2 separate regions of the Homo sapiens genome follow, and region 1 is linked to region 2. Evidence: fine-mapped expression QTL. Tissue or cell type: fibroblasts. Region 2 holds a variant in brackets; the other region holds the start of a gene. All regions are shown on one strand. Distances are between the middles of the regions.

What was found. PIP is the estimated chance that this variant, and not a neighbour inherited with it, causes the effect.
Region 1: it holds the start of GLI4, and the variant in region 2 is fine-mapped to the expression of GLI4 in fibroblasts (GTEx, PIP 0.96).

What each region holds. Positions count from the first base shown.
Region 1 is chr8:143,263,358-143,271,528 of GRCh38, forward strand. GLI4 (GLI family zinc finger 4) reads left to right here and starts at 4,088. Exons shown (of 4, transcript NM_138465.4): 1 at 4,088-4,127; 2 at 6,003-6,163. The coding sequence starts at 6,040. RefSeq lists silencers at 3,554-4,263, 4,424-4,543 and enhancers at 5,104-5,926, 6,553-6,742, 7,528-8,028.
Region 2 is chr8:143,226,613-143,234,783 of GRCh38, forward strand. No RefSeq gene overlaps it. Among named protein-coding and RNA genes, the nearest start is that of ZFP41, 16 kb to the right of the region's middle. The variant A/G (reference allele first, on the strand shown) is at 4,208.

The sequences.
Region 1 (8,171 bases), 37 kb after region 2:
GAAAGGTGGCTCTCAAGGCCCCAGGGAACCGCCCAGAGACGCCTGGGGTTCCAGAAGCTGGAAAGGCATGGAGCGGTGCGGGAACAAGCCTCTGCGGTGGCTGGAGATGTGGGGATGGAGACTGGTCATGCCTTCACACACTTAACCAGAACCCTCCCAGCTCTCCCTCCCCTGCAACCAAGCCAGCAAGGCGACACGGTGGCTGGCGCTGGCGAGAGGCAAGTGTGCTTGACTGCCTTTCTCCACTCTTGAGGACAACACCCAGAGTGGCCCCGTCTTTGCCCCACCAGCCCAGGCCTAAAGCTTCCTCATCATCCGCATCCCGGCCTGGGACTTAGGCGGACTTCTGCCAGCTGTGTCACGTGCAGGGGACTGCAGCCACTGACCCCCTCTCCCTTCTGTCCTGCTCTTCTCTACCCCACAGCCCCAGGCAGATCTTCAGTGCATGTCAGCTCTCCTCCCTCCCTCCCTGCAGACCCCTGTGCCCCGCAGTGCCCTGAGAATGACGTCTGAGCCCCCAGTGGAGGTGTCAAGGCTGTTCGGTCTGTCCCCATCCCGTTCTGTCCTCCCCTTGCTCACCACACTCCCCTGCCTGGTCTTCCAAACTCGAACCCCAGGCAACTCCTTCAGGCATCAGACCTCTGCCCCTGCGCCCCTCCTGCCTCTCTGTGATGGGCTGGCCCTTCCCTTCTGCTGCCTCCCCTCCCTCCTTCCTGCTCCAACCCCTATCTCTCTCTGATGCTGCCCCTTAGAGAAGCCTTCTTGGACCTTAAGCCTGGCCACTCCTCTAAGCCCCTCATCTCCAGGTGTGGTCTAGGAAGTGCTCTCAGCCTCTCTACTCCAGTGGCTCGGGGTCTCTGACCAGCCCTCCTGCCAGGGAAGCTTTGAAGGTTCCCACAGGGACCCCTAGAGACAAGGGCACTGCCCGTCCAGATGGCACCCTCACCCCAACCCCAGCAGCACTGGCTGGAGCAGGCCATGCCTGTGTGGGTATCTGAACAGGCACTGGATTCCCCGATCTCAACAAAAGAAGCCCATGGAGGCCTTTTCTAATCCACAGTCCAAGAGGACAAATCAAGACAACAGGCTGGGGGGGCTGGCTGTGGGCCGACTCCCACGTCTTAGGACCAGGGGCTCTGGGGCTGTTTGGGCTGGAACCCCTCCTCCCAGCATAACAAACACTAGCTCATTATTTACAGTGAATACCCAACAAAACCCTGCTCGAGGTGAGGAGCGGGGACCTGCTGCTCCAACAGACCAGACTGGCTGCTGGCTCCGAGCTCATTAAATCAGCAACCTTTGCACTCCCTCCAAAGCCCTGCCCGTCACCTTCACACCTCCCTGGTGGGGGAAGGGGATTCTTCCACTCTGATTACACCCGTTCCCATCTCCCTTCACTCCTGTGAGCTGGCCAGGCTGAGGATTTGTCCAAAGGGCCTGGGGAGTGAGACGCTCCACAGCTTCTCATGGGTCAGCCGACATGGACGGTAGCTTGGGTGACTCAGCTTCCCGTGATGCGCTGGATGCACAGGGAGCTGGTGACAACAGCCTGTGTGTGTGACAGAACAGCCTGTGCGTGTGACAGGACGTCAAGAACTACATACAAAGACACAGCTGCCCCCAAAAATGAGTCTGCACAGCCTGGTGCAATGCAGCTGCAGCCTGTCATCGAGTCAATTGCATTGTCGTCCGCCGCTCTCCTGATGTAGTTCTGTGTTTGTCCATTTTGCACTGCTATAAAGGAATACCTGAGACTGGGTAAGTTGGTGAGCGCCTGTAGTCCCAGCTACTCAGGACGGTGAGGCAGGAGAATAGCATGAATCCGGGAGGCGGAGCTTGCAGTGAGCCAAGATCGCGCCACTGCACTCCAGCCTGGGCCACAGAGCGAGACTCCGTCTCAAAAAAAAAAAAAAGAAAAGAAAAAAGAGGAGCTGGGCGCAGTGGCTCACGCCTGTAATCCCAGCACTTTGGGAAGCTGAGGCGGGTGGATCACCTGAGGTCAGGAGTTCAAGACCAGCCTGGCCAACATGGCAAAACCCCGTCTCTACTAAAAATACAAAATTATCCGGGCATGGTGGCGCATGCCTGTGATCCCAGCTACTTGGGAGGCTGAGGCAGGAGAATCACTTAAACCTGGGAGGCGGAGATTGCAGTGAGCCGAGATCGCACCAATTGCACTCCAGCCTGGGCAACAAGAGCGGCAACTCCATCTCAAAAGTAAATAAAGAACAAAAGGGGTTTGCTTGGCTCACAGTTCAGATCAGCGTTCAGAGGGTGCTGCTGTCCCTGGTCATACTGTACAAGAAGAGGCTTCTGGGGAGGGCTCAGGAAGCTTTTACTCACAGCAGAAGGCAAAGTGGGAGCCAGGGCATCCGTCACTTGGTAAGAGCCAGAGCAAGAGAGGGGCGGAGGCGCCAGGCTCTTTTTAACAGCCAGCTCTCACTCATCACCAAGGAGAGGGCACCAAGCTACTCATGACCCAAATAGCCTCCCACCAGGTCCCACCGCCACCATCAGGGGCCACATTTCCATGAGATGTGCAGGGGGCTCACTTCCAAACAGTATCAGATATAGTACTAGTTCCTTTTTTTTTTTTTTTTTTTTGAGACAGAGTCTCATTCTGTTGCCCAGGCTGGAGTGAAGTGGCGCGATCTCGGCGCAATGCAACCTCCGCCTCCCGGTTCAAGTGATTCTCCTGCCTCAGCCTCCCAAGTAGCTGGGATTACAGGTGCCCGCCACCGTGTCCGGGTAGCTTTTTTATATTTTTAGTAGAGATGGGGTTTCTCCCTGTTGGTCAGGCTGGTCTCAAACTCCCCACCTCTGGTGATCCACCCACTTCAGTGTCCCAAAGTGCTGGGATTACAGGCGTGAGCCACTGCGCCCGGCGCTACTTATAACTTTTTAAGAAACTACCAAGCCAATTTCTAGAATGGCAGCACCACTTTGCCTTACCACTGGCGATGTCCCAAGCTGCTCCGCGACCTCAGTGATGCTTGGCACTTGTTAGCAGTTTTTACCTGAGCCACCTGGCAAGTGTGCAGTGGCACCCACCGCGATGCTGGCCGGCCCTTCCCTGACAGCCATCCCTTCCCGAGCCTATTGCCATCCCTGTGCCCTCTTCGGTCAAACGTCTGTTGCGGCTCTTGCCAATTTTCTAACTGGAATGTTTGTTTTCTTGCGGTAGAGTTTAGAGATTTTTACATATTATCAGCCTGGGGGCTCCTCCACCCACACAGCCCTGAGCGTCCACCCTGGCAGCTGTTGCCCGTCTGCAGGCCCCCCCGCCCTCTGCTCCGCGTGCCCCTCCAGCTCAGGGGTCCCCTCGCCTCGGCTCTCTGCACCCCTGCTCAAAACGGTCAAAGAACCCTCCCCGGCCGTTTATTTTTCCCAGAAAGTGACAATTTTCTCTTTTCAGGTCGTAAGCACAGAACTGAGGGAGAAACTGTGGCTGAACAAGAGGAAAATGAGGAAGGAGTCCATGAAGGGGCTTTGGGGAACCTGTAACATCCTCCTCAGGCTCCCGGGGACGCCCCTGGAAAGCAGGCAGAATCGAGGGCGCTGGGGCCCCCGCGAGGGGAGCGGGAGGTCGCGCGTCTCGCAGCGGTTCCCGGCCGCCGGTGACCATCGCTGCGGACACATCCCGAGGAGGGAACCCAAGAGGGCGGCGGGGGGGACTCGCGAGCTGAACGTGGAAGCAACTCCAGCCGAGGACCCCCGGAGGCCTGGAGTGCACGGAGGGGCCGCGGGCAGCGTGGGGACGGCGCCGTCATCTCCCGAAGCCCGGCCCCGCGCTGGCTCCCCGGGCGGTGCAGGGCCGGCGTCGGGAAGGAGGCTCCGAGGCGCCGGCTTCTGCGCCCCACGCAGCGCCGCTCCCCGCGCCCGGGCGCTTTGCAGGCGCGGGCGGGATCCGGGCCAGCGTGTACGCGAAAGCCACGCGCGGGCGCAGCCCACGAGGGGAGGGGCGGGGAAAGGCCTCCTCTTCGCTCCCGGCCCCGCCCCCACACGGCCACCGAGGCGTGCGGTCCTCCCGGGGCCCAGAGCGTCCCGGAAGTGCGCGCCGGCCGGGCGGAGTGGGGCGGGGCCGGACACTTCCGTCCGGCGCGCGGCGTCCTCCTCCCGCTCGGAAGGTGAGTGGGCGCGGGCGGCGGCGGCGGCTCCGGGTGCCTGGGACCAGCCCAGTCCGAGCTCGTGCGCCGTACTCCGCGGTGCAGCCCTGCCCAGCCGGGCCGTGCGGCCCTTGCAGCCGCCGCTCGCCGTGACCTTGGCCTTGGGCCAAGCCCGGGGAGCGGGGTGGGCTCCTGGGGGTCGCGGAGCAGCAGCGGACCGCCCCGCCCAGCGGCCCTGGCGATAGCGGGTGTCCGTTCGCAGGGCGCCTTTCCCAGGCACCCAGTGACGGCAGCTGTCGTCATCGCCACTCTGCAGATGGGAAACTGAGGCCCGGAGGTCCCGCCGCTCCGGAGCGAGGAGCCGCCGGACCCCAGCGCCGCACCGCCGGGCGGACGCGCTCTGTGCCGAGCTCCCGGCGATTGGGTCCGCTCCCACGGGGCTGGGAACAGAGGGGCAGAGGATGCTTCCCCCGAGCCGCTGGCAGGAGTGCCCTTCCCCCTTCAGTCTGGAGCTCAGAGTTTGTGCGTCCCTGGGGGTGAAGGGGCGTCCACGCTGTGATGGTCGCCTCTGCTCAGTCCTGGGGGCCAAGCCAGGGTCGGGGTGATCGAGCAGGCCCTTTTACCAGGTGTCCCCAGTAAGTTAACTAAGTAACTTGAGATGTGACTTCAGGGTGGAGGACCTGCACCCAGTGGCCACCTACCTGGTGACCTGACCCTTCCCATCATTAGGGGATGGAGGCTGGCCCAGAAGCCGGGCACTGGGGTGGCGGCCGTGTGGGAGCTGCCTCTCCCACTTCCTCGAAGCAGGCACTGTCTGCTGTTCTTAGATCTGAGTATCCGTTAACTTTTGTCCTCTTTTCCCGTTCCTTTCTTCACTCCCTGCCCCAGATTAGGAGTTCCTACTCTATCACAGTATGAAAGAAAAGTCACTTTTCACATTGGACTCAAGCCGTTTTTGCAAAGTAAACTAAGAAGTGTCTTGGAGCCCTGAGTGAGTCTCCCAGTGCTGCTGCAGGGCTGGACTAGGGGATTCCAGCCTGCAGTCTCTGAGGGCTCTGTAGGGTCTGAGGAAGAGAGTTGCCCTCTGGAAACGTCTCTTCTCTGCTGTTCGGGAAAAACCTTATTAAGATTTCCTCCAAAACACTCATGCGCAGCAGGCATGGTTCGGTTTTCAGCCCTCCCACAGGGCCAGCAGCTGAGGTTTTTCTGGAAGACTCCCTATGCCTTTCTCTGGGGGAGGGGTGATGCCACGGGCTGGAAGGAGATGCCAGAGCCTCTGCTGGGACAGGAGCTTCGCTTCAGCCCCCACAGGCGTCTGCTGTGCCGCCCAGGCGGTGGCTGCTTCCTAAGCGCGCCTTCCAAGGCGTTACTCCTTTGCTGCTGCTGCTGCTGCTGCTGTTGTTTGAGTCTTGCTGTGTCTCCCAGGCTGGAGTGCAGGGGCGCCATCTCGGCTCACTGCAACCTCCACCTCCTGATTTCAAGCTGTTCTCCTGCCTCAGCTTCCCAAGTAGCTGGGATTACAGGTGCCCGCCACTGCGCCCAGCTAATTTTTATATTTTTAGTAGAGATGGGGTTTCACCATATTAGACAGGCTGGTCTCAAACTCCTGACCTCATGATCTACCCACCTCGGCCTCACAAAGTGCTGGGATTACAGGCATGAGCCACCGTCCCCAGCCACTCAAAGCGTTATTCCTTACTGAATAAATGTGCCAGGTCCCCCAACTGCCTCACCCCAGGCCTATGTGTCTCTGTGGGTTCATCCTCCATCCTTGCTCCTCCTGGAGTGGATAAACCTCCATCTCCCCTTGGAGAGCTGGCATGTTGCCTCCTCCTGCACCATCCCCCCGACATTCCTCCCAATCCCCTCATCTGCCATGGTTTTCATTTTCCCCAGGTCCCAGGTGTGACACCTTCAGCAGGTCTCAGGGAAGATGGCAGCCCTAGGGGACATTCAGGAGTCCCCTTCTGTCCCGTCCCCTGTCAGTCTCTCATCACCGGGGACACCTGGAACCCAGCACCACGAGCCTCAGCTTCACCTCCATGGGCATCAACATGGTACTCACCCAGCCCGCTGTGCGCCCTCCACCCTGCATCCCCTGCCCTCACGTCCCCTGCCCTGTCTCCTCCTGACCTGCCACGCTGGCTGACTTGAGAGGCGCCTCCAGACACCTGTATGCAGCTCCTTCAGCAGCTGGGGTTCCCACACCCTCAGGCCAGGGGCTCGGCGCGGGTTGGGTTGGGGCAGCGGTGGTTGAGGCTGGGGCCAAGCCTGAGCTCTCGCTCCCTAGGGACAGCTCCCCGCATTGTTTCTTTCCTGAGTTGAGGTATAGGAGGGAAAGTGGCCTCAAAATCTGGATCCAGCGTGACCAGGAGCAAGGCATCGCCCCTCTGAGTGTGTGTTGTCATTCAGGAAGTGGAGCAGCCAGAGTCCTTGCCAAGCTGGTTTGGGTGTGATCCCCCGGGACTCGCAGGGACAGAGCGCCAGCCTTGCTCCACCCCTGATGTTGTGGCCTCATGGTCACATGGCAGGCTCTGGGAGTTGAGGTGTGGGGGAGTCCCAGCCCCATAGTGCCCCTGGCTCTACTCCCTCTCAGAGGTCAGGGATCCTGAGGCTACATCTCTGCTGGGTGTTCCACAGGAGGCCTGGCCTCGGCCCTCGTGGCCCAACCCAGCACATGAGCTGCTGACAGCAGGGGCAAGGCCCCATATAGGTCAAGCCTGGAGAGCCCGTGCCTGGCCCAGGAATGGGGGCAACCTGGCACAGGGTTCTCCCTCTTGGGGAGTCAGAGTCCTGGTGGCTGAAGGGACCACTGAGGCTTGTGGAGAGCAGCTGCGCTGCATGGGGCCCTCAGGTGGGCACTCAGATGGGGACAGAGAGTCCGGGGGGCTCCCCCAAGGAGCCAGGACCAGGGTGAGTTAGAGGAGCAGGGAGCCAGGCAGCTTGGCATCCACTCCCCTGCAGCCCTGCCGTCTCCGCTGCGGTGTCCCGAGCAACTCCCCAGGGACTGCGAGGAGGCTGGGAAGGGGCGCCCGTGGGCTGCCTGGGCTGCCTGTCCTGGTGGACCTGGCCAGGGGCTACCTGGAAGGATCCCAAGCCCCTGCAGCACACACTGTGGCTGGGCCTCCAGCCCATGCCCCTGAGGGCCGTGCTCCTCACCCCTTAGTCAGAATCTCAGGGCCCACCCTTGCCCTCTCATGTCATCTGTACAATGGCTGAGAGGAGTTCTCCTGTCCCGTTACCAGTGGGGACACAGAAGCCCAGAGACAAGGCCAGGAGGTCAGCAGACTCAGGGCATGCCCTGGCACCCCCCCAGGCCTGATGAGGTGTGACTTCTCTAGGGGGACAGTTTCTGAGGGAGGGCACAGCCCAGCAGATCATCTTGGCACAGCACAGGACACACACTGAGGTGGCTGCAGGCCAGTTTCTGCAGGATAAGAAACTGACGCCCAGGTGGAGGGTGGGCTGGGGAGCATGGAGGGGCCTGGGGCCAGGCCCCCTGAGCCTGCAGGGTTGCGCTACCCCCAGCCCTGTCTCCACCAGCTGTGGGCAGCCAGGCCCAGAAAGCCAGGCATGAGTCCCCAGCCCCACAGGCCTGGAAGCCTCCTGGGCACTGGAGCCATGTCCGAGTGCCCTGAAACCCCCAGGGGTTTTGCCCCGTGGGAGGGAGTGGGGGCTGCACCAGCAGCTTCTGCCGTCTCCTTGCTGTGCTAGAAACAACATCCAGGGAGGACAGATGAGCTGGGCCCTGAGAACAGCAAGTGTGGCTGCTTTCCCCCAGCAAGAGACTGTGGCAGGAGGAGATTGTGGCTGAGGCACAGCGGGGCCTGGGAAGGCTGTCAGGTAGCCAGAGCCAGATAAGGGGGCGGCCTTCATCCCCTCTTCATGCTGATAGGCCTGGTGTAGAGAGAACGGGGCCAGGCCGCAGCAATGGGCAGCTACTGTCCCAACTTCCAGGCACTGGGTGAAGGCAGGGGCTGTTTCTGGGCGTTTCCAGCTTCCTCTGCTCCTTGGGAATGCCCAGGGGCCACAGATTCCTAAGCAGGGGAGACCTCGCTGTTTCTG
Region 2 (8,171 bases):
TGAGGAGACCTGTTGGAGCCAGGATTCAAGGAGCTTTCTCGGCTCCGGAGCACAGGGCTGCCTCTCCCAGGGTTTTCCAAATTCTGGGCTCTGCCTGCTTCCTCTGTCCTCCAGTGAGCATCCTGACTGCCCTGCCCTCTCCATCCTTCTCTGACCCCCAGGCTCCTTCTGTCCTGCACCCATCAGCTCACAGTTTTATGTTGCTGCCGCCTGGGGTCCTGCCCAGTGTCCCAGTTGGTGGGAAGCTCCTGAAGGGCAGGCCGGTGCAGGCACAGCTCTCTGAAGAAGGTTCTGAAGTTGTTGTTAAGACTGCAGTGGCCGGGCGTGGTGGCTCACACGTGTAATCCCAGCACTTTGAGAGGCCAAGGCAGGAGGACCACTTGAGCCTGGGAGTTCCAGACCAGCCTGGGCAACATAGTGAGACACCATTTCTACAAAATAAAAAAAAAAATTAGCCGAGCATAGTGGCGCAGGCCTGTAGTTCCAGCTACTCAGGAGGCTGAAGTGGGAGGATCGATTGAGCCCAGGAGGTTGAAGCTGCACTGAGTGAGGATTGCACCACTGCACTCCAGCCTGGGCAACAGACTGAGACCCTCTCAAAAAAATAAAATTAAATTAAATTAAAATTAAAAATAAATAAATAAAAGAAAGAGACAGAGACTGCAGTGAAAGAGAATCTGCAGAGAGGAAGGGGCTGTGTGTGACTTTGCATCCACAGGATTTTAATTTATGGAGGTGACTGTGCTGGCACAGAGAGGCCAGTGCCATGAGAGAAGTGCCGTCATGCCTGGGAGGATGTGAGGATGAGCGATATGACAGGAATGAGTGTGGGGTCAGCCCCAGGCCACCTAACAGCCAGGCCAGAGGTTGCCTGCTGGCACCTGGGCTCTGACCTTGTGTCTGAGCCCCACAAGACTCCAGGACCCTCTGCACCCCAGGCAAGACATGCCTACCCACTCGGTCTCCTTCAGAACCACGGACAGTGCCGGCGAGCACCACGCGCCACTGACCTGAGCTTCTAGTTAATTCCATATGGTGCCTCTGCCTCCTCCAGACTCAGCTGTCACCACGACCTGGCCAGCAGCAGGACCACCGGCACCCAGGTCTGACCTCAGGCTCCATCCCCTGCTGGACCCATGGGACCTGGCCCAGTGGCACCAGAATACCTGGGCCCCACCCCTGCCCTGGGCCCCACCCCTGCCCTGCGCTGCTGTTTCCTCAGCACTTGCTGTTTCCTCCCAGGCCACCTTCCCAGCAAACTCCCATTTATTTATCTATTTATGAAACAGGGTCTCACTCTGTCACCCCAGCTAGAGTGCAGTGGTGCAATCATAGCTCACTGCAGCCTCACCCTCCTGGGCTCAAGCGATCCTCCCACCTCAGCCTCCTGAGTAGCTGGGCCCACAGGCATGTGCCACCATGCCTGGCTAATTTATTTATTTTTGGTAGAGATGGGGTCTCACTATGTTTCCCAGGCTCATCAGCAACTCCCGTGCTCAAACGATCCTCCCACCTCAGCCTCCCAAGTAGCTGGGATTACAGGCGTGAGCCACCACACCCGGCCTCCTTTGTCGTTTAAATCCAAATATCGCCTTGTTCTGCAGGCCTGACCACCTGGGTCCTCGTGGGCTGGGCTCCTCTCTGTACTCCCGTTCCATCATAACCTGCCTCCCCTTCCACAAGGAGCACTCAGGGCGCCAGGGGCTGCGGTGGGTTCCCTGCCCCTCTGGAGCGTAGCAGCCTGTGCCCAGTGTTGGTGCCTGCGGGAGAGGGAGGCGGGGGGGAGAGGGAGGCGGGGGGGAGAACAGGTTCAGATCCTGCTGCTTCCCTTTCTGTCCTGGTGGCCAAGGCTACCTGCACAGGTAGATGAGGAGGGCACTTCCTTTCCCAGTGGGCCCTGGGTGGGATCATGGAGGGAGCCCTCGAAGGCATCTGGAGCCCGGGGCGGGTGCTCAGTCGACATGCACCCCTTCTGTGGTCGGACCCTGCTCCTGGCTTCCTCCCAAGCCCCCGTGCCTCCTGTTCGCTGTTGCTCTGAGTGCCGTCCAGGCACAGGCCCCAGTCCTTGGTGACCTTCCAGGCCACGCCTCTCAGCCCCGACACCTGCAGGGGCTTGGGCCCGTCCAGAGAGCACCCCTCCCTGGAAACCTCCGGGGCCTGGAGCCTGGGGCAACGCCTCTGTGTGGGCCCCGAGGTGAGAAAGGGACCTGTGTGGCCTGGAGTGAGATCCCACTGGGACCGGAGTGTGGACCTGCTGCCTGCCAGCTGTGCCGTCTCAGGCTGGCCATTTAGCCGCTCTGTGTTCGGGTCTCTCGTCCACGACACTGGGAAAAACCAAGCCCATCTCACGGGACTGGTGTGGAGATTTTCTGACCTTCGGCCGCCACACCCTGGCATGTGCTGGGCGACCCCTGCCCTGCCTCATTGCAGTCTGTTTCCCAAGCCGGGTTCTGGTTCCTTGCTTGTCCCCACCCCCCACAGTGTTTCGGACCCTCCTCCGGCATGGGGTCTGCCCGAGGCCCGGCTTCTCACACACACCCCTGCCACACCTACGCACCCTTAATAGGGAGGGACCAGCAAACCCACGGGGACCGAGCCCCACCCCCAGCTGGCTCACCACCCACCCAGAACCCAGCCCTGGGGCCACCATCTGGCCCCTGTGACCCTGCACCGGCCCCTGTGACCCTGAACCGCCCCTGACCCAGGAGCAAGTGCAGTGAGAACACCCTGTTTCCTCCTGGCTCAGGGCGGCCGTGACCTGCAGCTGGAGTGAGGGGCACTTGGGCCTGGCTCCAGGGATAGAGGAGGGGGACCTGCCCAGCATGCTGACCCTGCTCGAGTCTGTTAGATGGGTCTGGGAGGGCCTGCCTCCCTCTTCCACACAGACCCTGAGGGCTCCTCCTCTCCAGCATGGCAGCCTCCAGACCGAGTGCGTCCCGTGCCCACGCCCCGTCCCCCGGGTCGCCTGTCCAGACCGAGTGCGTCCCGTGCCCACGCCCCGTCCCCCGGGTCGCCTGTCCAGACCGAGTGCGTCCCGTGCCCACGCCCCGTCCCCCGGGTCGCCTGTCCAGACCGAGTGCGTCCCGTGCCCACGCCCCGTCCCCTGGGTCGCGTGTCCAGACCGAGTGCGTCCCGTGCCCACGCACCATTTCCCGGGTCACCTGCTCAGACCAAGTATGTCCCAAGCCCGCGCCCATTCCCCGGGGTCACCTGCTCCTTCTCCACTCACCCAGAGGAAGGTGACAGAATGTGGGGATCTGCTTTAATCTGATATCTTCCTGGGGATTTCCTGTCCCCCAGGACAGGAAGCGGGCATCCACTGCTGGGCCTCCGGCTCCTTGTTCTAGTCTGTGGGAACTCGCTGGAGAAGGAGGCAGTGTCCCCAAAGCAGGAAATTCCTAAGGAAGGAACCTCTGCCTTCGGTCCCAGGCAGACCCTAGGGACGCTTTCCTGAGACCACTGAGGTCTGCAGAAGCTAATGGTCACCGGGATGGGTCAGCTCTGCAGGAAGCAGGGCGAGGCCACCGCTCCTGCACCCAGGTCCCTGACAGGAGATGCCCGTATTGGGACCTTTCCAGAGGAGAGAGGCGTCCCCAGCTCCTGTCATGGAAGCAGGTCATGCACCTTCAGGCTGGCCTCAGACCAGGGCACAGCCAAGGCTTCCTGCCCTCTAGGGTCTGCAGGTGGGAGGGGAAGGGGGTTCAGCTAGTTCCATGCTGGATACCGCGGGGTGCAGGGGCTTCCAGACATCAGGAGGTGGGAGCGCTGCCTGACACTCAGGCTTCCAGCAGCAGAGACCTCACGGGGGTGAGCCCTTTCACTGCCGCTTTGGTGGTGCAGGAAGCCTGGACCCAGCTCCCGGCTGGGGCATCCCATGAACAAGAGGAGGGTAGGAACCCAGCAGAGGACAACCTCCTCGACATAAAAACTTCTCCACAAAAGACCCAGGGAAGAGGAAGGAAAGACAAACTACAGACTGGGAGAAAATGTTTGCAAACTGCATAGCGGACAATGGACTGGAATCTACGATCTATTCACAACGTATCTCAAAATTCAACAGCACAAAAACAACCCACTTACAACATGGACAAACGACGTAAAGAGCTATTTCCCTGACGAGGACACGCAGAAGGCAAACGTGCACAGGAACAGATGTTCGACACCACGCACCCTCAGCGTTCCGACACTAGAACCACGGTGAGGCTGC[A/G]GCGATGGCTCACTCATGTCATCCCAGGACTTTGGGAGGCCGAGGGGGGTGTATCACTTGAGCCCCAAAGTTCAAGATCAGACTGGGCAACATAGCAAACCCTGTTTCTAAACAAACAAAAAATTCACGGTGAGATCTCATTATACACCTATCAGAACGGCTAAATAAAAAATAAACTGTTGCTGGATGCGGTGGCTCAAGCCTGTAATACCAGCACTTTGGGAGGCCAAAGCAGGAGGATCACTTGAGGTCAGGAGTTTGAGACCAGTCTGGCCAACATGGTGAAACCCTGTCTCTACTAAAAATATAAAAATCAGCCAGGTGTGGTTGTGCGCTCCTGTAATCCCAGCTACTCAGAAAGCTAAGGCAGAAGAATTGCTTGAACCCAGAAGGTGGATTATGCAGTGAGCCGAGATCACACCATTGCACTCCAGCCTGAGTGACAGAGAGACGCTCCATCTGAAAAAATAAAAATAAATCAAATAAATAAATAAATAAACCATGACCACCCCACATGTTGATGGGGAGGCAGAGAAGCTGGGTCACCTACCTGCTGCTGCTGGGAGTGGACGATGGAGCAGCCGCTCTGGAAGACAGCTTGGCTGTTTCTTATCAAACTAGACACGCAACTCCCACGACCCCCTGATGCGCCCCAGAGAAATGAAAGTCATGTTCATACAAAAACCTGCTCATGAGTGTTCACAGCAGCTTTACTTGTTTTAGGCAAAACCTGGGAAGCAGCCCAGATGTCCTTCAATGGCAAAGGGTTCAGCTGGTTCCATGGGCACCAGGGGAGACAGCCCAGCCACAGGAAGGCGGTGCCGCTGAATGGCATAGCCGCCAGGGGGAACTACAGAGACTCTCCGGAGTGAAAGTGGCCTCTCAACAGGCGGCCTCCAGGACAACTTCCTCTGCACAGCTCCCTGCAGCCACAATTCTGGAAATGGAGAGAACCAATGAGTGGCCACAGGGGCTCCCAGATGCCCCTCCCCACAGCGGAGGGTGTAATATTGCACCAAGTTATGCAAAATGATAGCCTTGGGTTGGGCACGGTAGCGCACGCCTGTAATCCCAGCACTTTGGGAGGCCAAGGCCAGTGGATCACCTGAGGTCAGGAGTTCAAGACCAGCCTGGCCAATGTAGTGAAACCCTATCTCTACTAAAAATACAAAAAAAAAAAAAAAATTAGCCAGGCGTGGTGGCAGGCACCTGTAATCCCAGCTACTTGGGAGGCTGAGGCAGGAGAATAGCTTGAACCCAGGAGGCAAAGGCTGCAGTTAGCTGAGATCATGCCACTGCACTCCAGCCTAGGCAACAGAGTGAGACTCCATCTCAAAAAAAAAAAAAAAAGAAAGAAAGAAAAGGTTACCCTTGGAAGAAACCGAGCGAAGCATATAATGAATGTCTCTCTGTTATTTCTTACAACCATATGTGAATCGACAATGACCTCATTACAATTTTTAATTGAAAACTAAAGGCGGCTGGGCATGGTGGCTCATGCCTGTAATCCCAGCACTTTGGGAGGCCAAGACGGGCAGATCACGAGGTCAGGAGATCGAGACCATCCTGGCTAACACGCTGAAACCCCGTCTAGACTAAAAATACAAAAAAATTAGCCGGGCATGGTGGCAGGCTCCTGTAGTCCCAGCTACTTGGGAGGCTGAGGCAGGAGAATGGAATGAACCTGGGAGGCGGAGCTTGCAGTGAGCCGAGATCGCGCCACTGCACTCCAGCCTGGGTGACAGAGCGAGACTCCATCTCAAAAAACATAAAATAAAATAAAATATTTTTAAAAAACTAAAGGCAGACTATTTTTAATAAAAGCAGGTGTCCGAAGCGTCAGGGAGCCCCGCTGGAGGGAGAGCCTGTGGGCGTCCTGGGGAGAATTGGGTGCCAGGTGCTCACCGGACCCCTGGAGCCCAGTGCGGGGAAGCTGTGGCAGGGAGCATGGAAGGCTCTGCGCAGATCAGCCCTCCCTGGGCACTGAAGATCTTCCCTGGAGGGAGGGCCTGTCATGGAGTGGGAACATGCTGGGGGGCGCACAGGCCCCAGCCCTTCTGCCCCCTAGAGAGGGAGGCCCTTGGCCAGGCACGGTGGCTCACGACTGTTATCTCAGCACTTTGGAAGGCCAAGGTGGACAGATCACCTGAGGTCAGGAGATCAAGACCAGCCTGGCCAACATGGTGAAACCCGGTCTCTACTAAAAATACACAAATTAGCCAGGCGTGGTGGTGGGCACCTGTAATCCCAGCTACTTGGGAGGCTGAGGCAGGAGAATCACTTGAACCAAGAAGTGGACGTTGCAGTGAGCCAAGATCACGCCACTGCACTCCAGCCTGGGTGACAGAGGGAGACCCTGTCTCAAAAAAAAACAGAGAGAGAAGGAGGCCCTTGCTCACATGTCAGGATTGAGGCCCAGGAGACCCAGGGGTGGGCAGAATGTGAGGGACTGAGAGCTCAAGGCTGAGTCGGCTTGGAAGAAAAGTCAAGGTGATTGAGCTCCGTGTGAACAAAGCTGGTTGTGTGCTGTTTTGCTATTGTTGTTGTTTTGTTTTTTTTCTTTTTCTTTTTTTTTTTTTTTTCCAGAGACAGGGACTCACCTTCCCACCCAGGTGGGAGTGCAGTGGCGTGATCTCGGCTGACTGCCGCCTCGACCTCTCAGGCTCAAGCCATCCTCCCACCTCAGCCTCCCAAGTAGCCGGGACCACAGGCACGCACAACCACACCCAGCTAATTTTTTGGTGTTTTTTGTAGAGACAGTCTCGCTGTGTTGCCCAGAATGGTCTCACACTCCTGAGTGCAAGTGATCCTCCCGCCTTGGCCTCCTAAAGTGCTGGCATCACAGGCATGAGCCACAGTGCCCAGCCATGTTGTCGTAGTTTGGGTTTGGTTTGGTTTTATTGTGTGTTTTGGCACAGCCCTTGCTCAAACCCTGCAGAAAACAGAAGATAGGTATGTACTGACTGGTTTCAACTAGTGTGGGAAAACCTGGGTACCCTCCCCTCTGTTTCCCTGAAGGCGCCCAGGCCACCAGCTTCATGAGCACCCAGCGGATAGGGTGTGCCTGGTACCACCACAGGAAGGCCAGCTCTGGACACAGGGAGGACGCACGAAAGGCCGAGACAGTGCCCAGCCAGTGCGGATCCTGTACGCCGGCTGCTGGGTTCTCCTCCCTGTGGCCATCCACCTTCATGCTCTGCCCTCACACCCTGGGGCCATGAGGCCAGACAGACTGGGCTTCGATCTGCCATGTTCCTGGCATGCACTTTAGGTGGGCGCGCTGCTCCAGTTCTCCCTCTGTGCCATGACAGCAGCTACAACTGAGGGCCCTGGGTGCACATGAGTGTGCAGTGAAGGTCAGGCATCCGTGAGGTCCACCGTCACACACTCCCAAGGGACCCCCAGCCAGCGCTGCACAACCACCAGGGCCACAGCAGCTCTGTCTTAACCATGTGCTGAGTTGTCTCGTAAATCAGTCCCAAAGCCACACACAAACCCTAGTATCACACAGACCTCCCTCAGGTGCTGGGGGCCCTGGTCCAGTCACCCCCTGCCTATTGACCACACTCCTCCACAGTGATGCACCCCAGTGCTGAGACCTCTGGCGGACTCATATAACCCTCCCCCCAGCACTGTGGTTCGGGTCTATCTCTTCCTGGGCCCAGGTCTCTTCTACCCAGGATCCCGTCTCTCCCGGACTGTGATGTGGGCGGCCTCGGCACTATGAGGCCAGGTGTCTGCCTTCCCTACAGACACTGGACTCTCGTATCTTCCCCGCTGGCTCCCTGGACCCAGGGCAGTGCAGCTTGGTTGGCTCAAGATCACAGCTCACCCCCGCTGAGGATTCCAAGGAGCATAATAGCTATGACAAAAATAATCTTAGAACAGACCTCTTCACATCCCTGAGAGGAGATGACTGTGACCTTCATCACTCCCATCTTACAGATGAGGAAACTGAGGCACA